5 separate regions of the Homo sapiens genome follow, and all the other regions are linked to region 1. Evidence: fine-mapped expression QTL. A gene starts in region 1. Each other region holds a variant in brackets. All regions are shown on one strand. Distances are from middle to middle.

Region 1 (6,744 bases):
TAATTCAAAGTAGCTCTCATAACCATGATAAGAGAAAAGCAAATTATTCCTTTTGAAGAGGATCAGTGTATGCTACCCCAAAATATGCCACTTTCATGTAAGAATTGTTTTGAGCTGAAACCAATTTGCTCTTTGCCCTCCCTTTTTTGTATAAATGCAGGGCATAAATTTTCCTATGTACAGGTAATAAATATCCATTTGTAAATGTGTCTTCCTTTCCAGTACCAGGAAGAGGAGAGCAACTCTTACCAATGGGGAAGGCACCAACTTGAGTCCACATAACAAACTTTACTGAATAACCCTTATCTTATGTTAGCTTCCGCCATATATTTACCTTCCTACAATTTACCCAAGAAGCATTCCCCTACTTTTGTCTAGTTACTTCTCTATAATTTATCACTCTTTGTTAAAATGGCATATGAGCCCCCTGGTCTAACCACTTCTTTACATTTATGCATAAACCTTTTTTCCTGTTAATCTATCTTTCATCAGTTTATTTTGCAGGGCCCAGCTACTGAACCTAAGAGGGCAGAGAAAAAATGTTTTTCCTCCCCTATACTACATACAACAGGCAGACACTGAGCACCAACTCTGAGTCAGATGTTATAATCTGAAAAATCTCTCATAGTCCCTGCCAACGTGGACATCCCATGCAGAGATAACCATAAACCTCAACAAATGTAGGCTATTTAAGCTGAAGCCTGAAGGATGAATGAAACTTGGCTAGACAAAGAGGAGGAAAAGAGTAATCAAGGAAGAGGAAATTGCATATTTAAGAGCTAAAGAAATTACATTCAGTTCAAGAAATTGAAAGAAGAATGTAACAAGCTGCTGAAGCATTTTAACCAAGAAGGCAATATAATCATATTTGCATATTAGAAAAAACATTCACTCAGATTGCAGATTAAATGGACCAGTGGAGGAGGGGCAGGAAGGCCAGCTCAGAGACACAGGCCAGTTAGGAGGCTCCAACAATAGAAAAGGCAGGAAAATAATGAAATGGAATAGAGTGGAGGCAATGGGGTCAGAAAAAATGGGAAGGAAAGATGTAAGAACAGTTGACAGGATTTGTGGTGGCAGATTTATGGGGGGCAAGCAGAGAAGGGGGCAAGGTTGACTCCCAAGTTTCTGGCATGAACCAGATGGTTTCTTGGCACTCCCTGAGAGAGGAAAGGCACAATGGTTGTGTGTGTGGTTTTTTGTTTGTGTGATTTTTCTGGAAGTGGGAGTGTTGCAGGGGTTGGGCAAAACATATTGATAGAAGACAGACATGTGTTTCATTTTGGACATGCCAAACTGGAGGTTCCTGGGAGTCAAGAGAGATGTTAAACACACAGTTGGAGTCCTTGACTTCAGTCTCCCATCTATATTTCCAGGATGAAGCAGCTAGCGGGACTGCTTAGCACATAAGAGAAAATGGATAAAACGTTCCTAACACTTTGCCTGGTACATACAAGGTCCTGAATAACTGGCAGCTATTATGATTATTAAAACCTTAGGGAAGTGATGCATTCTTTTTCATTGCAGGAAAAACACTGTAATGAATTTACTTGATTTTTCAAAAAGCTTACAGTGTTTGTTTTTTATTTTGAGACGGAGTCTCGCTCCTGTTGCCCAGGCTGGAGTGCAATGGTGCGATCTCGGCTCACCGCAACCTCCACCTCCCAGGTTCAAGTGATTCTCCTGCCTCAGCCTCCCGAGTAGCTGGGATTACAGGCATGCGCCACCACGCCCGGCTAATTTTGTATTTTTAGTAGAGACGCGGTTTCTCCATGTTGGTCAGGCTGGGCTCGAACTCCCGACCTCAGATGATCCGCCCGCCTCGGCCTCCCAAAGTGCTGGGATTACAGGCGTGAGCCACCCCGTCCGGCCCTAGTGTTCGTTTTTTAATTACACCACAAAGAATTATAAGGCAGAGAGAGCATGACAGGCAAAGCAAAAATCAAACTAAAACCTCTACTATAGTGACCTGTAAAAATTCCAGTTTGTATTACTGTTTATCACAGAATTACCAGGAAATCCTAGAAATAATTTCTTCATATAACCAAATCAGTCATACACATTGTCTTCGAAACAATGTTTTTCCAAGATCGATGAGGTCTTTTGAGTGTATATAGATGTGAAAGAAACAAGTCCTTTACTACTATTCTAACACCTGGTATTACACGGTTTAACATGGAAGCCAAGTTTCCCCATGATCTTATTCTTCGTTTCTTCGGGGCTTTATTCTATGCAATGGAGAGTAACTGAAAATTAAGAGCAACCAGACTTCTTAGCTGAAAACCACATTTGATATTTTCTGCCCACATTTGCCTGTTACTCAATATTACACCCATATGATCATTACAAGACCTGAATACACTCTGGACATGGCAAAAGTATATCGGCCCCTTCGCATGCCTGCAACAATACTTTTAAAAACCTAATAAAGTGATTTGCAAATACCCAGAAGTGGGATCACCAGTGAGATACGGGCTAAGTTCAGAAAGGTCCCTGAAACCACCTTTACAGATGTATAAGTAATGCGAGAAATCTAACATGACTGACTCCATCTTGCTTCTAACCTCACGGGCTAAGTTTTCACCGTGTTGTCGTTTTCTTATTCTAGCACAGAGGCTAGGATAACTGGGAGAGGGATTTCGTGTAAACTTCAAGACAAGGGAAACTGACCCCACCCCTTCCTGGGAACCAACGAAGCCGCCCCGAGTTTCAGAAGCTCTTGTGATTTCATCCCCAGCCGGTCAACTGTTTCAGTTCCCCAGCCCCCCGAAGCCAAAATGCCCTTTAAAACCCTCGCCCCCGAATTCTCGGGGAGACAGGTCTGAGACCCTGTTCTGGTTTGGCCAGCCCTGCGCTTATTAACTTCTTTTTTTGCTGCAACAGCGGTTCTCACTGGTTCTTTCCGGGCAGCGAGCGAGAAGAATCCGTTGAGCCGGGGCCGGCGCCCGCGGGGCAACTGCACCGCGGGGGAGCCCAGTCGCCCCGCTCACCCGTGAGGGCCCTTTCTCCTGGAAAAGCCGCTCCGCCCTGCTGACCCCCACGGCACCGCGCGCCCAGACCCCAAGGCGGCGAGGGACTTGCGGGTTTGCGGCGAGTGGTCCAGACCGCGGGGCGGAAGTGAGGGGCGCGGCCGCGCGTCCGGGGCGCGTCTACCCCTCGCTCCCACTCGGCTCCGCGCCGCGACCACGCGCCGCCCTCCTCGTTCTAGAGGCAGCCCGCCAGGGCGGGGACCACTCACCCGCTTCCCCGGCGACCCTAGTCCACTCCTTGGCCTGGCAACCGGCGGCTTCCGCGGGGCGGGCCCGGCGGGTCGTCTCTCGGGTTGCGGGTGAAGGAAGCCGCCTGGGTCTGGCGGGAGGCACTGTTCTTGGAGTAGCCGGGCCTACGAAGAGCACGTTTTAAAGCTGTTGTTCCACGTTGCGGTGGAACAGTGCTGTTAACATTGAGGGAAATTGTCCCCGACTAACTGAGTTCTGTCTGCAGGTTAAGTGAAAGCCTATGTAGATAAATTTCACGGGCACAGCACTCAGTGCTAGCTAGAACTTACTAGCTATGTGACCTTGGGCAATTGTGGAAGGCGGGATAATGCTTCCGCCTCAGGATGTCCACATCCTACTCCCTGGAACCTGTGCGTTTGTTCTCTTGCTTGGCAGAGGGGGTTAAGATTGCAGATGGAATTAAGGTTGCTTATCAGCGGACTTTAAAATAAGGTGACGATCTTGGAGTGTGTGCTTGGGTAATTACAAAGTAATTACAAGGGTTCTCTAAAGTGGAAGGGGCCCAAAAAGAAGGTCAGTATGAGAAAGCTATTTGAAGGTGGAGGAAGGGGCAACAGCCAAGGAATGCAGCTGGCCTCAAGAAGCTGGAAGAGGAGCAGGCACAGTGTCTCATGTTTGCAATCCCAGTGCTTTGGAAGGCAGAGGCAGGAGAGGAACACTTTAGCCCAGGAGTTCGAGATCAGCCTGGGCAACATAGTGAGACACTCGTCTCTACGAAAAATTAACTAGACATAGCGACGGGCACTGTGGTCCCAGCTGCTCGGGGGATTGGGGCAGGAGGATCACTAGAGCTGGAGAGGGCTCATGATCCCACCACTGCAGTCCAGCTTTGGTGACAGAGCAAGAACCTGTCTCCAAAAAAAAAAAAAAATATATATATATATATATATATATATATAAAGGAGGAGGTGGGAGGTGGAAAAGGAGGAGAAGCTAGAAAAGGAGGGAAAAACAAAAAACAAAAACCAAATTGTTCCCCAGAGCTTCCAGAAGTAACAGTCCAGCTGACCCCTTGATTTTTTTGTTTTTTGAAACAGGGTCTTGCTATGTTGCCAAGACTGGTTTTGAGCTCCCGGGCTCAAGCGATCCGCCCACCTCAGCCTCCTGAGTGGCTGGGACTACAGGAAAACCACCATGCACACTGACGCCTTGATTTTAACCCAGTGAGCTGTATTTCTGAACTTCAGAACTGTAAGGTAATAAATTCGTGTCGTTTTAGCCACTTAGGTTGTCACAGTTTGTTACAGAAGCCTTAGGAAACTAATACAGCAGAGTAACTAAATCCCTCTGTATAAAAGTATAGAACCTACCTCATAGGATTACTGTGAACAACATCTGGTTACCCTTTACTTGTAAGCGCTGAACGTGTTCATTATAACGTGTCAACCAGAGTCAGAGAGACCGAAATCCAAGTAAAGAAGTTTATTGGCAGTCTGAGAATTGCAGTTCAAGGAACACAGATTCCAGAAGCATTTGAATTGTGTCCTGACCAGCTATTTTTGGGTAGGGTTTTTAAAGGAAGTAAGAAGTCAGTTCTCACTAGTTCATCCATAACCTTCGTAACCCACTATTTTGATTGAAGATAAAGCGTTATCATGACAGTTCATTGGTTTCTAGGCAAAAGTCCTTGATTCAGGGGTTTGAGAAAAGTTCAGTCCTCAGCATGAAGTCCTTTTCATAATGGCAGCAATTTTGTCTGCAACATCAGCAAGTACATTCTGCAGTCAGGCAGTTGTAAAATGGCATTCAGGAACAAAATGGCTTTGCTCTGGCCAGCTCCAATTGCCTTCCTTCCACAATGTCAAAGTTAATGTACAACTATTCTGTAGTGTGGTGATAAGAGAAGGGAAATGCTACAAATCAACATTTACAACATCTGCACTGCTTTCTTTGTACTCTATACAAAGACTAGTTTCAATTAAAAACAAAGAAGGCCAGGCACGATGGCTCAGGCCTGTAATCCCAGCACTTTGGGAGGCCGAGGTAGGCAGATCACCTGAGGTCAGGAGTTCGTGACCAGCCTGGCCTACATGGTGAAACCCTGTCTCTACTAAAAATACAAAAATTAGCTGGGCATGGTGGGTGGCGCCTGTAACCCCAACTACTCGGGAGGCTGAGGCATAAGAATCATTTGAACCTGGGAGGCGGAGGTTGCAGTGAACCAAGATCGTGCCACTGCACTCCAGCCTGGGTGATAGAGCGAAACTCTGTCTAAAAAAAAAAAAAAAAAAATACTGCCCATGCCTGTACTCAGAATGCTGCTCTTGAGAACTGAGCAAAAGACAGATTTCTATCAGATTAAATTTGTGACAGCATCAGGGGAGAAGATGACAAAGGTGCTTAATGCTTTTCTTTCCCACCCAATGATGGCAGTCATGAAAGGGATTCTTTCCCTTGTTCCATCGGTGTATTAGTTTGCCAGGGCTGCTGTAACAGAGTCCCACAAGCTAAATGAATGGTTTAATCAAATTTATTATCTCATACTTCTGGAGGCTAGAGGTCCAAAATAAAGGTGTTGACAGTGTTGGTTTCTTCTGAGGGCTGGAACGAAAAGATCTGTTCCAGGCTTCTGTACTTGACTTGTAGATGGCCTTCTTCTCCCCCACATTGCCTTTCCTTTATGTGTACTGTCTCTGAGTCTAAATTTCCCCTTGTATAAGGACACCAGTCATATCAGATTGAGGGACCATCCTACCCCAGTGTGGCCTCATCTTAACTAATTATATCCTTAACAACCCTATTTCCAAATAAGATCACATTCTGAGGTACTGCACATTAGGACTCCAGCGTATATTTTGTGGGGGATGCAATTCAACCTGTAAGTCAGTAAGAATAGACTGGTGAGGGTAGGGAGAGGGGATGGTGAGAGAAGGTCTGGCCCCCTTTTTATGCAGCTGTTGCCAAGCTGTGGATACCCAGCCAGGAGAGCTTCTGGATATATCCAGAAATAATAAAACGCCACTTCTCCTGAGATGACTGGGAGTTTTCACTCTGTATTAACTGCTTTGTAGTCTACAGTTATATAGACTTTCTTATACTTTTTAACTTCGGTTTGGTTTAAGAGCCACAAGATGACTCACCGAATATATTTCCAGGCATTAAAATAGATGATCTCTGACCCTCACCAGGATTGTTATGTTTGGTTTTTGTTTTGTCAAAGGGGAAAAAAAAAGTTGAGTAGAGGAAGACCTAGAACAAAAAGCAATTGTTCCTTGCTTTTTATCTCCCCAGCTTCAGTCCCACTTCCAAAGGGCAACCACTTTGACCTTTGTGGTTTTAAATTCTCCTGATGATCTTCAACTGTATGAATAGGATTAAGCTGCTATTTTGTGACACTATTGACTCTTGCAAGGACTGATAAAAAGTCAGCTTAATTCACCCCCCTAAGGTGCACATGGTAGTTAACACTATGATTTAGTCCTATTGTTCACTTTAGTAACTTTAATATCCTTAAACTGTTGTTTTT
Region 2 (6,744 bases), 61 kb before region 1:
GGTAAAAAATATAGAAAAGTATTGAAAGGCAATAAACATTTTCTTTAAAATGTTCTCTAACATCCCAACAGTAATAGGAATATCAGAGGTAGTTCCTGTGGAAATCAATTTTACCTTTTCAAGGAACTGGAAAAATGTCAGCGTGTTCAACAGTTCGTAATTTAATTCATCCTCAAATCTTTTAGATGTGTTTTCCCTTCTACAGGTCTGATAAAGAGTCCTCTGAATCACAACATACTTTTCTTATTTCTTTAATAAAATTAAGCCCTTAGGCTGGGCACAGTGGCTCACGCCTATAATCCCAGCACTTTGGGAGGCTGAGGCGGGCATATCACTAGAGCCCAGGAATTCAAGAACAGCCTGGGCAACACAGTGAGACCCTGACTCTACAAAAAGTAAAAACTAGCTGGGCATCATGGTGCATACCGGTAGTATAGCTATTCAGGAGGCTGAGACGGTAGGATCACTTGAGCCTGGGAGGTCGAGTGATATGCTTTGGATTTGTGTCTCAGCCTGGGAGGTCGAGTGATATGCTTTGGATTTGTGTCTCTGCCCAATCTCATGTTGCACTGTAATCCCCAATGTTGGGAGACGAGGCCTGGTAAATGGATCGTTGGGGCAGATTCCCCCCTTGCTGTTCTTGTGATAGTGAGTGAGTTTTCATGAGATCTGGTTGTTCAAAAGTTTGTAGCGGCTACCCCTTCACTCTTTTCCTCCTGCATGTAAGATGAGCCTGCCTCCCCTTCTGCTATGATTATAAATTTCCTGAGGCCTCCCCAGCCATACTTCCTGTACAGCCTGCAGAACTGTGAGCCAATTAAATGTATTTTCTTTATAAATTACCCAGTCTCAGGTGTTCTTTATAGCAGTATGAGAATGGACTAACACAGTACATTGATACCAGGAGTGGGGTATTGTATAAAGATACCTGAAAATGTGAAAGTGACTTTGGAACTGGGTAATGGGCGGAGGTTGGAAGAGCGTGGAGGGCTCAGAAGAAGATAGGAAGATGATGGAAAGTTTGGAATGCCCTAGAGACTTCTTAAAATCATAGTGACCAAAATGCTGATAGTGATATGGTCAATAAAGTCCAGGCTAAGGAGGTCTCAGATGGAGATGAGGAACTTATTGAGAAATGCAGCAAAGGACACTTTTGTTATGAATTAGCAAAGAGGTTGGAGGCATTGTGCCACTACCCTAGGGATCTGTGGAACTTTGAACTTGAGAGTGATGATTTAGGGCGTCTGACAGAAAAAATTTCTAAGCAACAAAGTATTCAAGATGTGGCCTGGCTGCTCTAGCACCCTATGGTCATATTTGTGAGCAAATAAATGATGTAAAACCAGAGCTTATACTTAAAAGAGAAGCAGAGTGTAAAAGTTAGGAAAGTTTGCAGCCTAGAAAGAAAAACCCATTTTCTGGGGAGCAATTCAAACCAGCTGCAGAAATTTTCAAAAATAAAGAGGAGTCAAATGTTGTTAGCCAAGATAATGGGGGAAATGCCTTGAAGGCATTTCAGAGACCTTTGAGGCAGCCCCTCTCATCACAGGCCCAGAGGCCTAGGAGGGAAGAATGGCTTTGAGGACCAAGCCCAGGGCCCCACTGCTCTGTGCAGCCTCAGGACATGGTGTCCTGTATTGTGGCTGCTCCAGCTCCAGCCATGGTTAAAACGGCCCAAGGTACAGCTCAGGCCATTGCTTCAGAGGGTGCAAGCCGTAAATCTTGGTGGCTTCCACATGGTGTTAAGTCTGCAGATGCACAGAGTGCAAGAGTTGAGGCGTGGGAGCCTCCACCAAGATCTCAGAAGATGTATGGAAAAGCCTAGTCGTCCAGGCAGAAGCCTGTTTCAGGGGGACCCTCTACTAGGGCAGTGCAGAGGGGAAATGTGGCATTGGAGCCTCCACACAGAGTCCCCACTGGGGCACTGCTTAGTGGAGCTGTGAGAAGAGGGCCACCATTCTCCTGACTCCAAAAACGGTAGATTGAACGACAGCTTGCACCACGCACCTGGAAAAGCCGCAGACACTCAACAGCAGCCTGTGAGAGCAGCCGCAGGGGCTGTAGCCTGCAAAGCCTCAGGAGCAGAGCTGCCCAAGGCCTTGAGAGCCCACTCCTCACACCAGTATGCCCTGGATGTGAGACATGGGGTCAAAGGAATTTGGAGCTTTAAGATTTAATGACTGCCCTGCTAGGTTTTGAATTTGCATGGGGTCTATAAACCCTTTGTTTTGGCTGATTTCTCCCTTTTGAAATGGGTGTATTTACCCAATGCCTGTACCCTCATTGTATTTTGGAAGTAACTAACTTGTTTTTTATTTTACAGCCTCACAGGTGGAAGGGACTTGACTTGTCTCAGAGAGACCTTGAATTGTGGACTTTTGAGTTAATGCTGAAATGAGTTAAGCCTTGGGGGACTGTTGAGAAGGGATAATTGTATTTTGCAATGTGAGAAGGATATGGGAATTGGGAGGGGCCAAAGGTGGAATGATATGGTTTGGATTTGTGTCCCTGCCCAAATTTCATGTTGAATTGTAATCCCTGATGTTGGAGGAGGGGCCTGGTGGAAGGTGATTAGATTATGGGGACAGATTTCCCTCTTACTGTTCTTGTGATAGTAAGTTCTCCAGAGATCTGGTTGTTTACAAGTGTGTAGCACCTCCCCCTTTGCTCTCTTTCTCCTGCTCTGGCCATTTAAGATGAGCCTGCTTCCCCTTCTGCCATGATTATAAGTTTCCTGCGGCCTCCCCAGCAATGCATCCTGTACAGCCTGCAGAACTGTAAGCCAATTAAACCTCTTGTCTTTATCAACTACCCAGTCTCAAGCAGTTCTTTATAGTAGTATGAGAACAGACTAATACATCCAGGCTGCAGTGAGCTGAGACATGCCACTGCCCTCTAGCCTGGGTGACACAGCAGGACCCTCTTTCAAATAAATAAATAAATAAATAAATAAATAAATAAATAAATAAAGCCCTTTATCAAATGAAGGGCAATAACTTAAACAATCGGTTTTTAAAAAAATGTTTATATACCAACACATTTTCTAAAATGTCTATATATCAAGTAAACACTTAGTAAATACACTTCCAAATGGTTC[T/TC]TAATTTAACCATGAGCCTTCTTTAAAAATACAATTCTTTAATTAAAAGACAGTAGCCATTTTATCATTTACATACCAGAAGCATTTCACTAGTATGACCTAAAAGATTCAACACTCTGCTGAAGTGAATTCAAATAATTAAACACAAAGAATCACTAGGGAAATATCAATTATTATATCATAAAAACTTCTCAATCCTATACATAATATGTTAGAATTAAGAATATTAAATGCAGAGTGTTTTCTGTTGCTATGTTACTCACTTTTCCTATACAGAAAAATCTTATTTATTAGAAATTAGAAGAATTTCAGTTATAAAAAGAAAATTAAGCCTAAAGTATACTTATAAGAGCATACAGCATTGTTTCATAAAATATAAAAACTAGAAGTTGTCCAACAAAATACCATTATAATGCTCAGTACAGAATACTTCATTTTAAGTACAAAATTTGTGGACTCCAAACAATAAGCTTGTACCTCATGAACATGTGCAGATAGGTCTGTCAGAATATACCATAGCTTAATGGGTTAAAAAAACAAAAGAATGAATAAGACCTACTATTTGATAGCACAATAGACTGCCTATGGTCAATAGTAACTTAATTGTACATTTTGAAATAAGTTACAGAGTATAACTGGGTTGTTTGTAACTCAAAGGATAAATACTTGAGGGGACAAACACCCTATTCTCCATGATGTGCTTATTTCACATTGCTTGCCTGTATCAAAACATCTCATATACCCCATAAATATATACACTTACTATGTACCCACAAAAATTTTTTTTTTAATTAAAAAATTAAAGAAAAAGAATATAACAGCTGGGTGCAGTGGCTTATGCTTGTAATACCAGCACTTTGGGAGGCCGAGGCAGGCTGATCGCAAGGTCAGGAGTTCGAGACCAGTCTGACCAACATGGTGAAACCCTGTCTCTACTAAAAGTATAAAAATTAGCCGGGGCCGGGCGCCATGGCTCACACCTGTAATCCCAGCACTTTGGGAGGCCCAGGCAGGTGGATCACGAGGTCAAGAGATGGAGACCATTCTGGCCAATATGGTGAAACCCCATCTCTACCAAAAATACAAAAATTAGCTGGGCATAGTGGCACACGTCTGTAGTCCCAGCTACTCAGGAGGCTGGGGCAGAAGAATTGCTTGAACCCGGGAGGTGGAGTTTGCGGTGAGCCGAGATCGCGCCACTGCACTCCAGCCTGGCGACAGAGCGAGACTCCGTCTCAAAACAAACAAACAAACAAACAAAAAGCATATACCATAGCTAAAAAACACAAAGGAGGGTTTAGAATGACTTACAGATCTGGCCTTCTGGGCTCCAGCTGGTGGTCTCCATTCATTTCTATGCAATATAGCATTCCTTTTAATTGGCACAGATATCCTTGATCTTGGTGGGCACTTTCCCTGGAATCTCACTTTTTGTATTTTACACTCTTAATTAACCAAAATAAAACAGCTTCAATTTTTTAAAAATTGTACACCATTAATACTGATACTTGTAAGAGTATAAACATAAGCTACATTTCATAACACAGTAAGTTTACTTTTTAGCCAGAGATATTTTACACACAGTGAGAGTACTGATGAAAAATTAATATGCAATTTCTTTAAATGAAAAAAACCATTTTTTCAGAGTCCCTTTGCATATTTCTAGTAATATATAACATCACTTTTTTTCAGAAAAATAGAAATTAATATTAACATTTACAGAAACAATATGTATGGGGTAATAATAAAAGTTATTAAATTTGGTCATTAGAGCTTGGGTTATCAGGCCACTCCATTCATGCCACATTGTTTGGAATTTATGAGTAGATCTTCTCTCTTTTTTTTTTGTTGAGACAGTCTCACTCTGTCACCCGGGCTACGGTGCAGTGGCAGGGTCTGAGCTCACTGCAACCTTCACCTCCCGAGTTCATGCGATTCTTGTGCCTCAGCCACCCAAGGAGCTGGGATTACAGGCATGGGCCACCAGGTCCAGCTAATTTTTGTATTTTTAGTAAAGACATGGTTTGGCCATGTTGGCCAGACTGGCATCAAACTCCTGGCCTCCGGTGACCTGCCCTCCTTGGCCTCCCAAAGTGCCAGGACTGAGGTATGAGTAGATCTTCTAATGCTTGTCTTTATCTCCATCAAAATTTGTTCTTGGGCTGAGTAAGGTGGCTCGCACCTGTAATCCCAGCAATTTGGGAGGCCAAGGTAGGAGGATTGTTTGAGCTCAGGAGTTCGAGACCAGCCTGGGCAACACAGTGAGACCCCATCTCAATAAAAAAAAAATTGTTCTTGTTCTCCTATCTTACCTAGATTAGAAATATGGACAATACACAGTCCCATACTCTGTACTTGTCTATTTTCTAAACATTCTCAATCTAGACTGGTATACAACAATGTTAGTCAAATTAAATGGCAAAGAGGCTCATTCACTTTCTCTTTAACTTTCCTTGATTTTAGAATCTCTGTCTCAATGGATAACATTTCCCTGTCATGGATTCCTTTGAGAGGCTTTCTGCTCCTCCTGATATTGTAAGTCCAGGCATTCAGTTACAGCTAAATTCTGGGGCTTTGACTTTCACAGCATCAAATGAATTAGTAATTTTCTCTTTCTTAACGTACCCCTCCCTCTGACACACAGCTTAGCTGATTCTTGACACCAGGACTAAAATAGTTTTCTCCGGCCTGGCGCGGTGGCTCACGCCTGTAATCCCAGCACTTTGGGAGGCAGAGGCGGGCGGATCACGAGGTCCGGAGATCGAGACCATCCTAGCTAACACAGTGAAACCTCGTCTCTACTAAAAAAATACAAAAAATTAGCCGGGAGTGGTGATGGGCGGCTGTAGTCCCAGCTACTCGGGAGGCTGAGGCAGGAGAATGGCATGAACCCGGGAGGTGGAGTTTGCAGTGAGCAGAGATCGCGCCATTGCACTCCAGCCTGGGCGACAGAGCGAGACTCCGTCTCGGAAAAAAAAAAAAGTTTTCTGTATTTATTACTACCATAAAATATCTCCTGCCTTCTTTGGGAACCACAAAGTAACAGTTCTTACTGTTATCAATTAGGCCCCAAGATCCTAACTTCAGCTCCAATGGTCCTTTGCAACAGAATTCTTAATTGCCAGTCTATCCTCTTTTAGAAAAATAAGTTTCATCTCATCATCCATGTCTATCTGCAACCTTCTCCCACTCTGTCCCTTCACTACACAAAAGTTAAGTTTGGGCTCAACCTCTTCAAGCATCTCTATTAGCATGTCCTCTGCTTCATGGAGGTTTCCTGACTAACGAGAAGGAACCCTGCAGGTCATGCATGAGCTAGATATACAACTTTCAGGCACACTCACTAGTTGCCATTTGACAAGATGATTTTTCTCCTGCTTATACTGCTTGTATTTTTTAAAATGTCCACTTTCAATATGTTTGGTGAAATTTCCTTGCATTACTCTCTGTGTGAGACATGTGTAATAAATACTTTTGATTGCATGCCAAAGTCACACTTACTCTGGACCACCTTCCCAGCATGTCGAGAAGCTGGCGCTCCTGCTCTGCATATAAGCATGTGACTGAATTCTTCCTGAATGACCTAAAACCGAACACACGTGTCAAGGACCTGCAACCCAAAATCTCTGCCAAAATCCAAACAGTCA
Region 3 (6,744 bases), 220 kb after region 1:
TGGCAATGCAACAAATATGAGAGAAAAATAGAAAACTGCAGTATTTGCATTTGTGATATTTTTCCCATCTAATTTCACTCTCTCCAATGGTCCCTGAAACATCACCTGCAGGCTGACATCCTGATAAACTCTAAAAGGAAGACAGAAAACAAAATCTAAAAGGCAGGGTGGGTGTGGCAGTTAGAGAGGTCACCACGAAAAAGAAGAAAAATGCAGCTACTCTAGGGATACAGATAAGTCATTAGGGTCAAGGGTTGAAAGGAGTACATGAGATTGCAGACTGCCCATGTGGTAACTAAAACTAATGACAGACTTCTAATAAAGGAACAAAACCTTTAGATTCTTTTGTTTGGCCTTTACTGCCAAAAAAAGCAAGTTGCAAAACCAGTCCTAACATTTCATTAAGCAATGGAAAGCTTCTTTCCATTGGGAAAAGCTAATAGAAGTGTCTCTTCATACCCTCTTAAAAAGGGCCAGGTTTCTCCTGATGTTTCTGCTATTAGAAAAGACTTGTAGACTGAGCATGGTGGCTCATGCTTGTAACCCCAGCACTTTGGGAAGCCAAGGCAGGCAAATCACTTGAGGTCAGGAGTTCAAGACCAGCCTGGACAACATGGCGAAACCCTGTCTCTACTAAAAATACAAAAATCAGTCGGATGTGGTGGCAGATGCCTGTAATTCCAGCTACTCAGGAGGCTGAGGCACGAGAATTGCTTGAACCCAGAAGGCGGAGGTTGCAGTGAGCCAAGACTGTGCCACTGCACTCCAGCCTGAGTGACAGAGGGAGACTCTGTCTCAAAAAAAAAAAAAAAAAAGACTTGTAAAGTTTGTGATGGTAGAGTGGAAAGAGCATGATATTTACAATAATGTTATCAGTGCATGTCCTAGCCAATCCTGTTATTCTCCCTGTATCTCAAATGTCTTGTCTGTGGCCAGGTGCAATGGCTCATGCTTGTAATCTCAGCACTTTGGGAGGCTGATGCAGGTGGATCACGAGGTCAGGAGTTCGAGACCAGCCTGGCCAACACAGTGAAACCCCGTCTCTACTAAAAATGCAAAAATTAGCTGGGCCTGGTGGCAGGTGCATGTAATCCCAGCTACTCAGGAGGCTGAGGCAGGAGAATCACTTGAACTCGGGAGGCAGAGGTTGTAGTGAGCCAAGATCATGCCACCGCACTCCCACCTGGGTGACAGAGCTAGACTACGTCTCAAAAAAAAAAAAAAAAAAAAAGCTTTGTCTGTAAAGTGTAGAAGATTGCAAACACAAACAAAAGGGATTCTAAATGTCTAAAAAGGCTTATTTCCTTCTTTAATTCATTCTTCTAACTAAAAAAGCTTGGCTGGGCGTGGTGGCTTACACCTGTAATCCCAGCACTTTGGGAGGCCGAGGCAGGCAGACCACGAGGTCAGGAGTTCCAGACCAGCTTGGCCAACATGGTGAAACCCTGTCTCTACTAAAAATACAAAAATTAGCCAGGCCTGGTGGTGAGCACCTGTAGTCCCAGCTTCTCAGGAGGCTGAGGCAGAAGAATCGCTGGAACCCAGGAGGTGGAGGTTGCAGTGCGCTGAGATTGCGATCGCGCCACTGCACTCCAGCCTGGGCAACACAGCAAGACTCCGTCTCAAAAAAAAAAAAAAAGCTTAAACTGTAAAAAATTGTAAACTGTAAAAACTATAAAAAATTGTAAACTGTTCTACTTACTTTACATATACCTAATTAATGCATTTTCTGAACAACATGATAAAGTTATGTTTAAGAAAAACATACATGCACCAGTTCTCACGCTGAGGTATCTGCTGCCAGTTTGGTCCAGGAACATGTAATCAGCATCCTGGTCCCAGGTAGTGGCATGGTCAGTACCTACTGCCCATTTCCTCAGAAGACAATACTGTCCTTTCCAAAATGTTTACTATTTATTTGCTCAGAACAGATAGGTCTTCATTTGACTCACTACCTGAACCACCAGCTTCTTACATTATCTCTTTAAAGCAGAATTAATTCATATAATTTTGTCAAGTCACCTGGACTCAACTCTAATCTGAAAGTTCTTGAATATCTGTGGTATCACCATTTCTAAGTAGTTCAGCAGTCTAATGGTCATAACTAACTTAATCAGCCAAATATGAAATCTGTTTGATGCTGCCATTGTAGGAGTCAAATTCTTAATGTATTTATAACTTAATAAATTGCAATTCAGAATTATGACACTAAGTTAACTTCGCTCCATCCCTTTTTAGTTGAGGTTCCAGATTTCTGCTTCAGGTTGGAAACTGCCAATGCAATGTTCAGAGCATGTTCTACTCAAAAGTCACATCTTATCTTTCATAGCCACATGACAGACCAAGCCCCATTTGCTCATTTACATTTTATTATCATTGTTATTACTAATAAATCAATAGAAATTGAATAACAAAGGAAAAAGCTCAAGATAAATAATTTCTTCCTTGTGAATTCAAACACATGCATACACACACATCCTCCTCTGTGTGTTACTTCCTCCTCACATTCTGTCCTACGGTACAAATAGTTACACAAAAGTCTACAAAACGCGAGTAGCAGACCCCAGCTGTGTAAAGCTCAGGCTGATTCTCAGTCTAGATCACCAGCTTCTCCACGCTAAGTGTACTTGTGGTTTCATCCTCTTCATTTGACCCAAAATATCCTGGGAGGTCCAGCATCCTCTGCTCAGCCTCAGTGAGGCCAAACGACGTATTGTCATAGAAGGCAAACTCAGGGTGAGTGGGGAAGCTTTGACACTTGTCTTTTCTACACTGAGAAGGGCTCAGAGAACTGACCCTCTGGTAGTTATCTTTGGGGGATATGGGAGAAGACTGCTTCCTTGAGACACTCTTGTGACTGGGGGACGGTCCCCGACGAGCTCTGTGGGGCTCTGTTCTCTCAATTCCGGCCACTAATCCTGCCTGGTGATCCCCAAGGTCTGGTTTCCTCAAGGGCTGCCCCAAAGTGTAGGATTTAGGGAGAGGGTTTAATGGACCACGGGTTCCACTTGCCTCTTGGAAATGCTCCAGTTTTTCAGGAAACAGGTGGGCACCTCGACTCTGAGGCCTAAATCTGTCCTCTGCCTGCTCGCAGGTCCGCGTCCTAGAGCTGTAGGCAGGGGCCTGCCGTGGAGTCAGAGTGGACATGCTCCTCTCTCGGAACGGCCGGGCCTGCCTGGCTTCATGGAAACTCGCTGTCCTCCTGAAATGGGCGTTCCTGGCATGGCTCCTTTCGGACGGGCCCCCTCTGCTGCCCACGTGCCTTGCCTGTGACTTGCGGATCAGAGTCTGGCTGGGGCTTATGGCACAACTGGCCTGAGTCACATTTAGATCCAGCCTGGAGGGAGGCCTTTCCCCGGCACTGACCGCGGGCTGCTCCGGAAATGGGGATTTGATCCGGAACTTGTTTGCTGCAGCTTCTTCCGGGCTTTCCAAATCTAAGGGAGCGCTGGGGGCCGCATCAATGGCAGTGTCTGTCAGGGGACTCTGAGACACGTGATACACTTTGGTAGTTTCCGTCAGACCTTTCTTTTTCATCTCCTTTAACTGCTGCTGGGCAAGGCGGTAGCTGAACAGAGGTGGGATTATCTTCTGGGCGTTGGACTGGAAGCTCTCGCTGCCAGAGGCATCATCCTCGGGAGGTACCGGCCCGCTCCGCCTGTAGGTCAGAGGGATGCCTGTGT[C/G]CCCTGGACTCCCCGTGGGCCCGTCTCCCCCATCCGAGAAGCTCCCGCGCTGCTCGCTCAGCTCGCAGATATTCTCCTCGTCCGAGTTCTTCCGGAAGCTGGGGGAGTGGATGGAGTTGTGTCGAGCAGGTGTGCTGCACTTGGCTGGCCGGCCGAACCTCCTCCACAGCGTGATGAGCACAGTGGCAATGATGATGAACAAGCACAAGGATATACCAGTGACAGTCACGATGTTGTTGGACTTCACTGGACCCTGGGGCTGAAGAGGAGATGGGCTGGATGGCTGGAAAGCTGCAAAAAAAAACAAAACAAAACAAACAAACAAAAAACACAGAGGAACAGATGTATTTTTACTTTTTCTTTTCTTTTTTTTTTTTTTTTTGAGATGGAGTCTTGCTCTGTTGCCCAGGCTGGAGTGCAATGGTGTGATCTCGGCTCATTGCAACCTCCGCCTCCCAGGCTCAAACAATTCTCCTGCCTCAGCCTCCCAAGTAGCTGGGATTACAGGCATGCACCACCACGCCTGGCTAATTTTTTTGTATTTTTAGTAGAGCTGGGGTTTCATCATATTGGGCAGGCTGGTCTTGAACTCCTGACTTGTGATCCACCCGCCTTGGCCTCCCAAAGTGCTGGGATTACAGGTGTTAGCCACTGTGCCCAGCCCAAATATGTATTTTCTAGTATTGTTTGCTCTGCACGGTTTTAAGGTCTCTGAGTCACTCACTCTAATTATCTAGCAGTTAAGGAATGATGGAAAATAAACAAGGACTGGGATTTCTGGTCTTACATATGGATTTCTGCTGGCAGCTGAAGCCAAACAAGATCACCAAAGGGGAAACACTGCAAAAACAGAGACCCACAGAAGCGAGGTGACCTGGTAAGCCATAATCAAGGTGACTCCCATGCTCACCAGCTCCTGCTGGAATTGGCCTCCAAGTTTCCACACAGAAGTAGCATGTAGAAATTTTCTTTTTCTTTTTTTTTTTGTTTTGAGACGGAGTCTTGCTCTGTCGCCCAGGATGGAGCACAGTGGCACGATCTCGGCTCACTGCAACAACTTCCGCCTCCACGGTTCAAGTGATTCTCCCGCCTCAGCCTCCTGAGTAGCTGGAACTATAGGCGCATGCCACCACCCCTGGCTCATTTTTTAATTTTTAGTAAAAACAGGGTTTCACCATGTTGGCCAGGATGGTCTTGAACTCCAGACCTCATGATCTGCCCACCTCGGCCTCCCAAAGTGCTGGGATTACAGGTGTGAGCCACTGCGCCCAGCCAGAAATTTTCAAGATAAAAGTCAGTGTTCACTTACGATAATGTAAACATGGTACCTATTGTTAAATGTACCTCTGAGAGGCACATCGGAAGTATAAAATGTGAAATGCAAAATGATTTAGGTAGGCCAAATTTAGGTTCCTACATATGTACATCTTAAGGGAAATTAACTGACGAAAGTAAGACTTGGCAATACATAATACAACTCATTTCCCCCTTCTATTATCCAGAAATTGTCTTTCCTAAGCGTTAAAGCCTCTGCATTCTCTCTCTTCTATTTTCAGCCATCCACTCCCCTTCCTACCTTCCATTGTGAGGGGTACTTTTCTTCTTTTTCCCTCCTCAAACTGGTTTGTCCCACGGTCATCAAAATGTTTCATCAAAATGCAGGCACCACCTGGAGCCTCCACCTGTACTGCCACCAAAACACCTGGAAACCTGAGACCAACTAATGCCACCTGACCCTCCCCTCTCTTTCCCCTTTGGTCACCAGTCCTATGGCTTTTTTTCCCATGTTTGTATCACCACCAGCTCTGTGCTTCATCTTCTCCACCCGTCCTCCCACTGCCCACTCTTTGTACTGTCCCCTAGGGGACAGCTGATTACAAATTCCCCAACATCCCTAACTGCTCCACAGAACACCACCTTCACCTCCTTGTCCCAACTGAAGCCAGGCTACCCTGCAGGGCATGGTTTCCCCCAATCCTCTCAGTGGAAGCTGTCACACATAGTTTCTTTTCCTTTTTTTTTTTTTTCTTTTCCACCTCCTGGGTTCACGCCATTCTCCTGCCTCAGCCTTCCGAGTAGCTGGGACTACAGGCACCCACCACCACGCCTCACTAAATTTTTTTGTATTTTTAGTAGAGATGGGGTTTCACCATGTTAGCCAGGATGGCCTCGATCTCCTGACCTCGTGATCTGCCTAACTTGGCCTCCCAAAGTGCTGGGATTACACATACTTTCTTTATAAGTAAACAGGGCAAGAAGCAGAGTGCGTTCCCCAAGCTCATTCCTATTGCTCTTTCCAACCTGTGCTCTTTCACCTCCATAAAAAACTTCCATTCCTTTGATGCCCATGCCATCCTTGCCAACCACCGTTCTACTCCTCCCTCAACACCATCATCTCCCAACCTCCTGCTAGCCATCAGTCACTCTAGCACCTGGGTCCCAGCCTCCCTCACTATGCCAGAGCTAGGACCATCCAGGTGGCTTCAGGTCCATCCAACATATAGTACCTTCCCACTCTCTGCTCCTCTTCTAAAATCTTAAACCGCTCAACCCACTCTCTAGCTGTGTTCACTACTCTCACTCACTCACTATTACTACATTAAGACTTCTGATTCTCCAGCCCTCCATTTTCTCCCATCTGCCAGACACTTCCCAACCTCACTTCTCCCCCTAACCAATTTACAACCATGATCCATTACTGAAACCATTTTCCTTCCAACAACCTCAATTCTCTTGACCTCTAATACTGAGCTATACCCCTTCCCCTGCTCTGCAGCAGAAGTCTGACCCTAGACATGTGAACCTCAGACACGTGAATTCCTAGCTGCTGCACTGGTGGAGAAAATGAACAACCATGCAGGTCAGTGCCCCTGCGCAGTCACAGCACCCAACCTCAGCTGCCCACAAATCCTTCCATGGGTCCCCTAAAACACCTGCTTCCAATTTCACCACTTTCTTAAGCCCCCTATCCAATCCACTTCCTTAGCACTCTAATAGGTCACACACACACAAAATAGAAGCCATCAGGCAAGTACATGCCCAGCTTCTTCTGCAATCCTCC
Region 4 (6,744 bases), 21 kb before region 1:
TGCAATAAATAGAGTCAGACTTGCCATACCATTACATGCTCTACTTGGTATAATCTATCTTAGATCTTAACCTAGCAAGATGGCTTAGTAATTAAATTATTATAATTATAATACACATACACATATACATATCTAATACAGACCACTGGCCTGGATTCCTAAGGAGAGTATTATAAAAAAATTATTTTATACAATGTTAGTAAAAATATCTGTAAAAAAATTTAAAAATCAAATCCTAATTGTTCATCCTTTTTGAGCTCTATTCAATGTAACAGAGTTCAGGTATACAACAAAAGAAATCTTGGAGTTGTTGCTAAAGCAATGGCATATTTGCATGATAAAAATGGGCTCCTCTTCAAAGAAAGTAGTAGCAGGATTATGAAAATAAGCAAACAAATGAGCAAACAGAAGTAATGTAGCTCCATGAAAAATTTTAATTGTAGCTTAAGACTGGCTAGAAAAGATTAAAAAACACCTAAAAATACAGTGCTATGAATTACTTTATAACTTTGAAATCAAAGCGTTTCTGGGAGGAGGGAAACCCTTTGAATTGAGTTTTGGAAGATGAGAACATTTCTGTGGATGGAAACTGGTGATGGCTGTACAACAATGTGACGTACTTAGTGCTACTGAACTGTACACCTTAAAATGGTTCAAATGTAAATTTTATGTTATATATATTTGCCACAATTTTCAAAAAGTCAAAGGGTTTCCAAGGTCACATACAGACATGAATTACCTGGTCTATATATTGTGTATGTTTGAAAAGCCAAGCTGAGATCAGCATTCTTAAGGATGTTCAACAAAGTGTCAGGGGTCTCTTTGAGCCACTGCTTACGAGTAGTATTTTTGCTGTACTTTATTACAGAACCACCTAGTTGCAAAAAGACAAAAATTAGTGCTGAATAAAAAAAGATTTTTCAGCATGTACTTTCCAGATCATATTTTCAAGCGAAGTTAGTTATATTTGACTGTTAACTAAAATCTGCTTCATTCACCTGTATGAGCAATGCTCTGATGTGTGACGCCAAATACCCTTCACAGACATTAAAAGGCTCTAAGTGCACTAAGTAACTATTAGAAAAAGTTCTCTAATAAAATAATAGTATTCAATCTGACTACTAACCTCTATCGTCCTCTGCTGTTAAACTGGAGGTGAGTATGGATGCATTTTCCAAAGCTGTAAGAGCTGTATTGGGTACATTTTTCTCCCACTGTCGTCTATGAAGATTTGGTGAACTGGCTTTCCTCAGATGGACTGACTTATTACCTGATTTTAAAGTGTGAAAAAGGAATGCCAAGCATGTGAAATTATGTATCCATCTCTGTCCACACATAGACTCTAACAAATATGGAAGTGTTTCTTTTCTCTTTCATATTCAGATCTATGTTTGAAAGATCAATGTTCTTTCTAATCTAAGTAGCAAAGGAAATTTAAAAAAAAATCCAAAATGAAAAATTAAAACGAACCATTACAGTGACTGAGTTAAAAAAATAATATGTATATAGTTACATATTCTATATTATACAAGAATGAAGCCCTGGGAGGACTTACATACACACAGTATGCTATGCTTTTTATGGTGGATAGCACAATAAATACTGCTCTTTCTAATGACTCTTACTGATAAATGCTATTCTCTCTTTTGTTGTAGGTAAATAAAATATTCCTAAAACATTAAATAAGTTACTAGATAAGCAAACAAATATCAGCTTGTACTCTTGTTTATGATATCTGAGACCTAGTAACATAAAAATTGGTATTCCCCAACTCCTCACCTAAGAAATGATTAGAATTTGAATAACTTACCTTTTTCTTCTCTGTTTACTCTTCTCAATGCACTTTCAACTAAATTTTCATTAATGCTTTCCAAATCAGTATGGCTACCCTTTCTATCTTGTTCTTCCTCTTGCTTTAAAAGAGATTAACAATACAGATTAAATAATGCTTGAATTGCCACAAAAAGGTAAACAAATATGCAAAGTCAGCCATTTTAATTTCAAATAAAAATTAATGGATTAAAATACATGAATAATCATAGAACCCCAAGGACATGTATATTAATAGCCATATATATCTATATGTATTTAATAACATATATATGTACATTAACCAAAAACCTACATACATGTATATATTAATAGACATACACATTAATAGCCATTAATATCAATTATTATAAATATGAAGAGGATATATTAAAATGACAGCTATTTGGTAAGTCTTTACTAAGGAAAAGACTAATGAAAAATTTCAATATGGTTTGCCGTACTGGGCTTTACAAACTATAATATCAAAATGAGATATTTTATAAAGTTGCCATATAGAATCAAAATGTTCCCACTTAATTCAGTATCTTTCCAAATTATCTAAGCCCTTGATTTATTTCGTGAAATATAGTAATACACTATCTGGTTTACTAAATCTGCATATACTTTGAGAAGAAGTACATATTGAATGCCTAAACAGTCCCAGGCAAACAAATTCTCAAATATTTATTGAATGAATAAAGAAAGAGTAGGCTTGGGTGGCATGGCGGGTTTTCTTATTTCTAAGCAGTGGTTCTGAAACTTCTCTTCCCACACATGTAGGGAACATAAAAATCTGTCACTTAACAGTGGTAGCTCACTTACAGCAGAGATTTCAAAGCCTCCTACACTCAAGAATGACATCAGAATCTTGGAGGAGTAGTGGTGAGGGGCAGCTGTGAAAAGCCCCCCAGGGGATTCCAGTCTTTCCTTCCCATTGAGGATCACTGCTTTCTGTGTCTGCAGCAGCCTCCCACATTCCTCTGGGCGCTATTCAACTCTGCCTTCATTGCCATCGTCCTTTGCTGGCCTGCACACAAGTTTTCCTACCTCAAGTCCTCCATTCCCTGACTGACTTTTTGGCCTTTTCTCCATTTTGTTTACATGTTGCACCCTTTTCATTTTGCGAACACATATTGCTGTGTTCACTACAGGTGGTATCAAACTATAGCGTGTGGGCACAGATCATCTGCAAAGGGCACAAGGAAACATTTTAGGGGATGGAAATTCTTTTCTTTTTGAGACAGAGTCTTGCTGTGTTGCCCAGGCTGGAGTGCAGAGGTGCGATCATAGCTCACTGCCCTCCTCAACTTCCCAGGCTCAGGCGATCCTCCCGCCTCAGCTTCCCAGTAGCTGGGACTACAGGCATGTGCCACCATGCCCACCTAAAATTTTTAATTTTTTGTAGAGATGGGGTCTCATTGTGTTGCCCAGGCTTGACGCAAACTCCTGGCCTCAATCAATGCTCCTGCCTCTGCCTCCCAGAGTGTTGGTATTACAGGCGTAAGCCACTCTGCCCCACCTGGAAGTTCTATATGATGACTGTGGCAGGGGTTATATGGATATTTAAATACCATCACCAAAATTTATCAAATTGTGCATAAAAATGGGTAAATTTTGTGGCATGTAAATTATACCTCAAAAACTGGAAAAAACAGACATTACAATGAAAAGAAAAAAAGTATAGAGGTCTGTATTCCATTTGTAGCAACATAATGGTGGGGTGTTGTTATTTATTTAGAACCTATGGTTCATTCAAAAAATTTAAAAGTTTAATTACTAGTACATTCCATGAAGAGAGCAATTTGTTGTCATACAACATCTTTTCCTTTTTGAATTGAAAGGTTAGGCCAGGTGAAGTGGCTCACACCTATAAATCCCAGCACTTTAGGAGGCCAAGGTGGGAGGATCACTTAAGCCCAAGAGTTCAACACCAGCCTGGGCAACATAGTGAGACCTCATCTCTATAAAAAAGTTAAAAAATTATCCGGGCATGGTGGCATGCACCTGTAGTTCCAGCTACTCAAGAGGCTGAGGTGGGAAGATCCCTTGAGCCCAGGAGGTTGAGTCTGCAGTGAGTGGTGTTTACGCCACTGCACTCCAGCCTAGACAACAGAGAGAGAGAGAGAGAGAAGGAGAGAAGGAAAGAAAG[A/C]AAGGTTGACTGAAATACTGAAAAAAACATCAATAGTACACAATTTGCTAAGGGGGGTGTGACAACACTGAAACATGGATCGGCTGTTAATATCCACAGCTTTAGGGAAGCTTCAGTGTAAAAGAATGTCACAGTTGCCCAGGGCTAGATGAACAGGACCCCGAATGCCAGCCTGAAAATTGATTCTTGGGATAACAAGGAGGTGCTACAAAGCATTGAACAGAAAAATGTTAAGATCTAAATAGTAATCTAAATGTTACTCAGCTTCAGCACAGCAATAAAAAGGAATGAAGTTTTGACACACAGAAGAACTTAAAAACATTATGTAAGTGAAAGAGGCCAGACATAAAAGGACAAATATTGTATGATTCCACTTACATGAAATACTTAGAATAGGCAATTTCACACAAAGATTTGAGCAGCTACCAGGGGCTACCAGATTTGAGATTAGAGGCTGCCAGGGGCTGCAGTGGTGGAAGAGGGAGTTATTGCTTAACAGGTACAGAGTTTCTGTTTGGGATGATAAAAAGTTTTGGAAATAGACAGTAGTGATGGTTGCACAGTATTATGAATGTAATTAACACCACTCAATTGTACACTCAGAATTGGCTAAAATGGCATATTTTATGTTATGTATATTCTACCACCATAAAAAAACAAAAAGCAGGCCAGGTGTGGTGGCTCATGCCTGTAATCCTAGCACTTTGGGAGGCCAAGACAGGCAGATCACATGAGGTCAGGAGTTCAAGACCAGCCTGGCCAACATAGCAAAACCCCATCTCTACAAAAAGACAAAAAATTAGCTGGGCACGGTGGCTCGTGCCTGTGGTCCCAGCTAACCAGGAGGCTGAGGCATGAGAATTGCTTGAACCCGGGAGGCAGAGGTTGCAGTGAGCCGTGATCACGCCACTGCACTCCAGCCTGGGTGGCAGAGGGAGATTCTGTTTCAAAATAAACGAACCAAAAAGCAGCCAGGCCCAATGGCTCACACCTATAATCCCAGCACTTTAAGAGGCCGAGGCGGGAGGATCACTTGAACACAGGGGTTTGAGACCAGCCCAGGTAACATAGCAAAATCCCATCTCTTTAAAAAAATGCCAAAAAAAAAAAAAAAAAAAGCTAGGCATGGTGGCACATGCCTGTAGTCCCAGATACTTGGGAGGCTGAGGTGGGAGGATCACTTGAGCCCAGGTGTTCGAAGATGCAGTGAGCCATGTTCACGTCATTGCACTCCAGCTTGGATGCCAAAGTGAGACCCTATCTCAAAAAAAAAAAAAAAAAAAAGCCAGGATAACACAAGATTTTCATGACTGAAAGCAAGACAAAATTCTTCCACATCTGTATTGAAACCACTATCATCAATAATCAAAAATGGAGGCCGGGCACGGTGGCTCACGCCTGTAATCCCAGCACTTTGGGAGGCTGAGATGGGTGCATCACAAGGTGAGGAGATCGAGACCATCCTGGCTAAAACAGTGAAACCCTGTCTCTACTAAAAATACAAAAAATTAGCTGGGCATGGTAGCGGGTGCCTGCAGTCCCAGCTACTCAGGAGACTGAGGCAGAAGAATGGCATGAATCCAGGAGGCGGGGCTTGCAGTGAGCCAAGATGGTGCCACTGCACTCCAGCCTGGGTGACAGAGCAAGACTCCATCTCAAATAATAATAATAATAAATGGAAAAATAAACAATAAATGGCGACCTAAAGTGGCTCAGCTGACAGTGCAGATGAACAGCTACCAGTTATTTCCCATGCCAAAAAATGAAGGAAGAAGTACTTAACTAGAGGGACCAGGTCACAGTCTTCCAAATATCTTATGGCACTTAAGGGTAACCCGGTATCCAGGAGGTAGATATTTCATAAACGTATTTTTTTTCTTTTGAGATGAAGTCTCGCTCTTGTCGCCCAGGCTGGAGTGCAATGGCGCAATCTAGGCTCACTGCAACCTCCGCCTCCAGGTTCACTTGATTCTCCTGCCTCAACCTCCCGAGTAGCTGGGATTACAGGCTTGCACCACCACGCCCGGCCACCGCGCCCGGCCTCATAAAAGTAATTTTAAAGCACTTACCACTGTGCTTGCTTCATTTCCCAAAGCTATCCTGATTCTGCTGGGGTTTGCTTTTAAAAGAGAGAGAGAAGGTAGAAAGATAAAACACATAAAGGATCATCCTATTAAGTTCCTAATATGATTTTCATACAGCTGGAGAAGTGAGTGAGGTTATTAAAGTCAAAGAGCCAAAGCTCTCTGATATCCTGAATGGGAATAACAAGCTTTAATCACCTAATAATACATCTCAGTTATTGAAAGAGGCTATTTCCACTGTTTCATTCCTAAAGTTAAAATCCAAAAGTTAAAAGACATCTCTATTCACTTATGCCAACCCATTTAAGCACTAAGAGGTAACATACTCTGCATACTTAAGGTTATTTTCCCCTTTGGTGCATGCTAGCTAGTGGAGTCCGTGCTTTTCCTGTTAGCTATCACAGCTGGTGGAATAAGTATCCCTAAAAAGAAGTGAGCTGTTTATTAACTCAGAAGAGACCAGCAGGAGGAGTCAGGAGAGAACCCTGGCAATTGATCCCTTTGGTAGGAATGGCTATGCCTCATAGTGGTTCATGTCCCTTATTCATTCAACGTTTTAAAAAATTGCTATTGAACATGGATGATGATGCACTGAGAATACAAGAGTGAGCAAATCAGATGCAATCCCTGCCCTGTTCCATTTCATTATTCTGGTCTGTCTACAGATTAAACTGGAGATGCCATCAGACATATGGTCCC
Region 5 (5,894 bases), 140 kb before region 1:
TATTCATTCCTTATTTTTCTTTACGATTGAGCCACGAGACATTTTCCAATCTATCATGTCTCTTTTCGGTAAAGAAGAAACCGGATCTTCCTTCTCATCTTAGTTTCTACTCTTAAACTCACCAAAACTGCCATTGTTAACACGTCACTTAAATATAAAGCTTATGTTGAATCCTCTGCTTTTTGATAATCTGTTACTTTAATTTTTATGATGTAAGAAGTTACATAAAATATTATTTTATTTGTATTACGTGTATATGCTGTTTCTTCTAGAAAAATTAGAAAATAGATAAGTAAAAGGAAAAAACCCCAGGAATGCTACCATCCGGAGATAGCCACTGTTAACATTTTGGTGAAAAAACTCCCAGGCTTTTTTCCACCTTTGTTGTTGTAGTACTACTGTATTTTAAATGCCTTGCCCTCCACTAATAAAACAGAAGGCCTAGTATATTCTACCTACCTAGTTTTTTTACCACCTACATATTTTTGTTCAGGCTGAAAATTTATAATTAACACCATAGCTTCCTGAATAGCAGTATATACCTAATTCTTTCAAAAGTTCAGGCATTTCTTCTTCGTTTTTGTCCACTCTACTTCAAATTCTGTAATCATTACTTTAAACATTTTGAATGAGAAAGTCTGTTATCAGAGCCTTTTGGTTCTTCCCTGTCATACGTAATATTCCTCAGTGCTTTACATTATAATGTTTAAATAAACTCACTAACCAGACTTAAAGGACAGGTTTAACTTTAGTTATTATGCAGCTTTTAAGTTAAATGTTTAATAGTTCAGTTTGAAAAGCTTGTCACATGAATTTTCCCACCTAAATTATTTGAAGGAATTGCCAGAAAAACCTTTACATTATATGGGTCAGCTGCATTTTAAATAAGCTTTTGAAAGAGTGTCCTGAGAAAGCAAACTGTCCTCTGTAGTGTTGCTTTTATGAATTCATATATTCCAAATGTTAAATAAATGATAAATCTTACCACTTTTGTCAGACTCTGTTCATCCTTTAAGGCAGTGGTTCTCAAATTGTGCTCCATGGACCATGCAGGTCCCAAGGCCCTTCAATGGATCCTCAACAAATCTGTTTTTATAATAACATTAATGTAATATTTGCCTATTTTACTATGTTGATAAGTGCAAAAGTGATAGCGGATAAAACTAAGTGATAGTGGATTTTAATTAACAGTGTGAAAAGGTCATTGATAGGGTTTCAGAGTCTGTATTGCAACTGACATTAAGAAACTGCATAACTTGTCAAATGTGGTCTAGCATCAGAGAAGAATATCTGTAACTAGCTGAAAAGTTAAATATATTTTAAACATAAGATCAATATATATTAAAATATACTCCCTTTTCCTACTACATGTCTAAGTTAGCCTGAATTTTCTTCATATACTTCAACAAAAACAACATATCACTAGATTGAATGCAGAAACAGAAAGGAGGAGCCACTATCTGGTTTCACGTTAAGCCAGACATTAAAAAGATTTGCAAAAAGTGTAAATCATTGGCACCCTTCTTGCTAAATTTCTTTTTTTGGTTTGGAAAAGATAGTTTTTTAATAAAAATATGTTAATGTGTTATGAAAGAATTTTTATTTTCAAATGAATTCATAAAAAGTTTAAAGTTCTTTAGTTTTCATTTCTAATATGCTAAATATTGGTAGATATAAGCAGTGTAAACCACTGGTTCTCAACCAGGGGTGATTTTTGCCCTTCGCAAGACATTTGGCATTTGGCAATATCTGGAGGGCTTTTTTTTTTTAATTTTTTTTTTAGAGATAAGAGTCTTGCTCTGTTGCCCAGGCTGGAGTGCAGTGGCATGATCATAGCTTACTACAGCCTTGAACTCCTGGGCTCAAGCAATCCTCCCACCTCAGCCTCCCAAAATGTTGGGATTACAGGCATGAGCCACCATGCCCAACTGATAATTTTGATTGGGAGGGTGCTACTGGCATCTAAGTGGGTCAAGACCAAAGATGCTACTAAATATAATACATAGGACAACCTCCGCAACAAATAATTATTTGGTCCAAAATGTCAGTAGTGTCAAGGATGAGAAACTCTGATGTAAACAAAAGCTCTATTGTATCCTCAGTAAAATTTTTAAGAGTATAAAGGTGTATAAAGAATATAAAGACCAAATTATTTTAGACCAATTATTTCAGCTTTGAAATAAAGTGCTCATGTGGGATTTCAAATAGAGTCAAATACCTCTTCAAGTACACAGTAGGAAATCCCACATGAGATTTGTTCACAATAGGAACAAATGAGGATTTGTTCACAATAGGAAATCCCACATGAGAACTTTATGTCAAAACTAAATATCAATAAAATATTTACTTCTGGCCAGGTGCAGCAGCTCATGCCTGTAATCTCAATGCTTTGGAAGGCCAAGGCAGGAGGATTACTTGAGGCCAAGAGTTTGAGACCAGCCTGGGCAACATAGCAAAACCCTATTTCTACAAAAAACATTTTTTTAATTAGCTGGGTGTGGTGGCATGCACCTGTAGTTCCAGCTTCTCAGGAGTCTGAGGCAGGAGGATCGCTTGAGCCAAGGAGTTTGGGGCTGCAGTGATTGCTATGATTGCACCACTGCACTTCAGCCTGGGTGACAGAGTGAGAC[C/T]CTGTATCTAAAAAAAGCAAAATTTACTTTTCTGATGAATTTGTATGTTTTCATGTGGGCAGTGAAAACTATGTGATATGGTTTGGCCGTGACCCCACCCAAACCTCAAGTTGAATTTTATCTCCCAGAATGCCCACATGTTGTGGGAGGGATCCAGGGGGAGGTAATTGAATCATGGGGGCCAATCTTTCCCATGCTATTCTCGTGATAGTGAGTAAGTTCACGAGATCTGATGGGGTTTATCAGGGGTTTCTGCTTTTGCTTCTTTCTGATTTTTCTCTTGCTGCCACCATGTAAGAAGTGCCTTATGCCTCCCGCCATGATTCTGAGGCCTCATAGCCATGTGGAACTGTAAATCCAATTAAACCTATTTTTGTTCCCAGTTTCGAGTATGTCTTTATCAGCAGCGTGAAAATGAACTTGGTACCATAAATTAGTACCAGTAGAGTGGGGTGCTGCTGAAGAGATACCCAAAAATGTGGAAGCGACTTTGGAACTGGGCAACAGGCAGAGGCTGGAACAGTTTGGAGGGCTCAGAAGAAGCCAGGAAAATGTGGGAAAGTTTGGAACATCCTAGAGACTTGTTGAATGGCTTTGAACAAAATGCGGATAGTGATATGGACAACGAAATCCAGGCTGAGGTGGTCTCAGATGGAGATGAAGAACTTGTTGGGAACTGGAGAAAGGTGACTCCTCTTATGTTTTAGCAAAGGTACTAGAGGCATTTTGCCCCTGCCCTAGAGATTTGTGGAACTTTGAACTTGAAAGAGATGATTTAGGGTATCTGGTGTAAGAAATTTCTAAGCAGCAAAGAATTCAAGAAGTGACTTGGGTGCTCTTAAAAGCATTCCATTTTAAAAGCGGAACAGAGCATAAAAGTTCAGAAAATTTGCAGCCTGACAATGCAGTAGAAAAGAAAGACCCATTTTTTTAGGAGAAATTCAAGCTGGCTGCAGAAATTTTCAAAAGTAGCAAGGAGCCTAATGTTAATCCTGAAGACCATGGGGGAAAATGTCTCCAGGCAATGTCGGAGACCTTCATGGCAGCCTCTCTCATGGCAGGCCTGGAGGCCCAGGAGGAAAAAGTGGTTTTGTGGGCCAGGTGCAGGGGCCCTGTGCTGTGTGCAGCCTAGGGACTTGGTACCCTGTGTCCCAGCTGCTCCAGCCGTGGCTGAAAGGGGCCAATGCAGAGCTAGTGCTGTGGCTTCAGAGGGTGAAAGCCCCAAGCCATGGTAGCTTCACATGGTGTTGAGCCTGCGGGTGCACAGAAGTCAAGAATGGAAATTTGGGAACCTCTACCTAGATTGCAGAAGATGTATAGAAACGCCTGGATGCCCAGGCAAAAGTTTGCCACCGGGGCAGGGCCCTCATGGAGAACCTCTGCCAGGGCAGTGCAGAAGGGAAATGTGGGGTTGGAGCCCCCACACAGAGTCCCTACTGGGGCACTGCCTAGTGGAGCTGCGAGAAGAGGGCCACCGTCCTCCATACCCCAGAGTGGTAGATCCACTGACAGCTTGCACCGTGTGCCTGGAAAAACCTCAGACACTCAACGCCGGCCCATGAAAGCAGCCAGGAGGGAGGCTGTACCCTGCAAATCTACAGGGGCAGAGCTGCTCAAGACCATGGGAACCCACCTCTTGCTTAAGCATGACCTGGATGTGAGACCTGGAGTCAAAGGAGGTCATTTTGGAGCTTTAAAAATTTGACTGCCCCACTGGATTTTGGACTTGCATGGGCCCTGTAACCCCCTTGTTTTGGCCAATTTCTCCCATTTGGAACAGCTGTACTTACCCAATACCTGTACTCCCATTGTATCTGGGAAGTAACTAGCTTACTTTTGATTTTACAGGCTCATAGGCAGAAGGGACTTGCCTTGTCTCGGATGAGACTTTGGACTGTGGACATATGGGTTAATGCTGAAATGAGTTAAGACTTTGGGGGACTGTTGGGAAGGCATAATTGGTTTTGAAATGTGATGACGTGAGATTTGGAGGGGCCAGGGCAGAATGATATGGTTTGGCCATGTCCCCACCCAAATCTCAGTTTGAATTGTGTCTCCCAGAATTCCCATGTGTTGTGGAAGGGACCCAGGGGAAGGTAATTGAATCATGGGGGCCGGTCTTTCCCATGCTATTCTCATAATAATGAATAAGTCTCATGAGATCTGATGGGTTTATCAGGGGTTTCCGCTTTTGCTGCTTCCTCGTTTTTCTCTTGCCCACTGCCCTGTAAGAAGTGCCTTACACCTCCTGCCGTGATTCTGAGGTCTCCCCAGCCATATGGAACTGTAAGTCCAATTAAATCTCTTTTTGTTCCCCGTTTTGGGTACGTCTTTATCAGCAGTGTGAAAACGAAGTAATACACTGTGTAACTACACAAAACATCCCCTATTTGCCTAGGCTACTGAGCAGCCCAGAGCCCAGTCTGCTATTCACTACTATGTATGTAAATACAGCCTGCATACCTGTGTCCATCATCAACCACCATCCCAACATACACACCATCTTTATTCTATTTTCACTGGTCCTGACTTTTTATTATTTAACTTTTGGCATTTTATTGTTTTTAAATCTTATAAGCCCTCCTCAAATCCTTTATAAAGGATAGGCAGAGTATGAAAAATATTAAGTTAGATTCCAACTGTATTGGCAACCCTAAAAGAAAAGCACCTTGGCATTTTATTTTAACACATTTTAAGCAACATCTGAAGACGTAATAAACTTTTGCATCCGTCATATATTCATTGGATGCCTTCTCTGTGCCAGGCATCGTACTTGGCATTGGGGACATGGTATGAGCAAGCCTGGGCCCTTGCTTTTGCAGAGCTTCAATCGACCTGACAGCAATGGAGAACCTTTTAACAGTCACTTTGTGAATGAGTTTACTAATGAGTATTAAGTAGAACATTAGTGGGTTTTTGGCAGCTCATTCAGAGGTACATAAGGGAAGGTAGTAGTATTAGATCATGTAAATAGAGCAAATACAGAACTGGAAATAGAAGTGGAGAAATCTAAGTTCCATTCCTTTATCCCAGAAATTGTTCTACTTGAGGTGAAGTGATGGAATGAAAAAGATTTACTATCTTACCAGACTTTAGTGGAATATTGATCGTTCAAAAGACATATTTTTTTTGGCATCTGACCCTCAAAATGACAGTATATAACACATTCTTAATCATGTCTTGTTTAGATTAATAGTTAAATTTGTTTTAATCCCATAACATATATACTAAGTCAGGAGAAAGGGGGTTCAATGTTGATTTTTA

The links. PIP is the estimated chance that this variant, and not a neighbour inherited with it, causes the effect.
Region 2: its variant is fine-mapped to the expression of NEK3 in whole blood (TOPMed, PIP 0.97).
Region 3: its variant is fine-mapped to the expression of NEK3 in whole blood (TOPMed, PIP above 0.99).
Region 4: its variant is fine-mapped to the expression of NEK3 in tibial artery (GTEx, PIP 0.92).
Region 5: its variant is fine-mapped to the expression of NEK3 in T cells (TOPMed, PIP above 0.99). The same link has a PIP of 0.9 or more in blood mononuclear cells.

Annotation. Positions count from the first base shown.
Region 1 is chr13:52,156,305-52,163,048 of GRCh38, forward strand. It overlaps NEK3 (NIMA related kinase 3), which reads right to left and starts at 3,293. Exons shown (of 16, transcript NM_002498.3): 1 at 3,239-3,293. LOC124903176 (a long non-coding RNA gene) reads left to right here. Exons shown (of 2, transcript XR_007063806.1): 2 at 1-1,042. RefSeq lists silencers at 2,980-3,089, 3,170-3,229, 4,990-5,284.
Region 2 is chr13:52,095,335-52,102,078 of GRCh38, forward strand. It overlaps NEK5 (NIMA related kinase 5), which reads right to left. Exons shown (of 24, transcript NM_001365552.1): 11 at 6,599-6,680; 12 at 4,409-4,542. Among named protein-coding and RNA genes, the nearest start is that of NEK5, 30 kb to the right of the region's middle. The variant T/TC (reference allele first, on the strand shown) is at 3,098.
Region 3 is chr13:52,374,816-52,381,559 of GRCh38, forward strand. It overlaps THSD1 (thrombospondin type 1 domain containing 1), which reads right to left. Exons shown (of 5, transcript NM_018676.4): 5 at 2,352-3,974. The coding sequence ends at 2,596. Among named protein-coding and RNA genes, the nearest start is that of THSD1, 28 kb to the right of the region's middle. RefSeq lists enhancers at 2,613-3,114, 3,115-3,614. The variant C/G (reference allele first, on the strand shown) is at 3,684.
Region 4 is chr13:52,134,990-52,141,733 of GRCh38, forward strand. It overlaps NEK3 (NIMA related kinase 3), which reads right to left. Exons shown (of 16, transcript NM_002498.3): 11 at 6,031-6,080; 12 at 1,811-1,913; 13 at 1,127-1,270; 14 at 740-874. Among named protein-coding and RNA genes, the nearest start is that of NEK5, 9.3 kb to the left of the region's middle. The variant A/C (reference allele first, on the strand shown) is at 3,962.
Region 5 is chr13:52,012,770-52,018,663 of GRCh38, forward strand. The region is part of intron 1 of ALG11 (ALG11 alpha-1,2-mannosyltransferase); the gene reads left to right. Among named protein-coding and RNA genes, the nearest start is that of ALG11, 3.3 kb to the left of the region's middle. The variant C/T (reference allele first, on the strand shown) is at 2,631.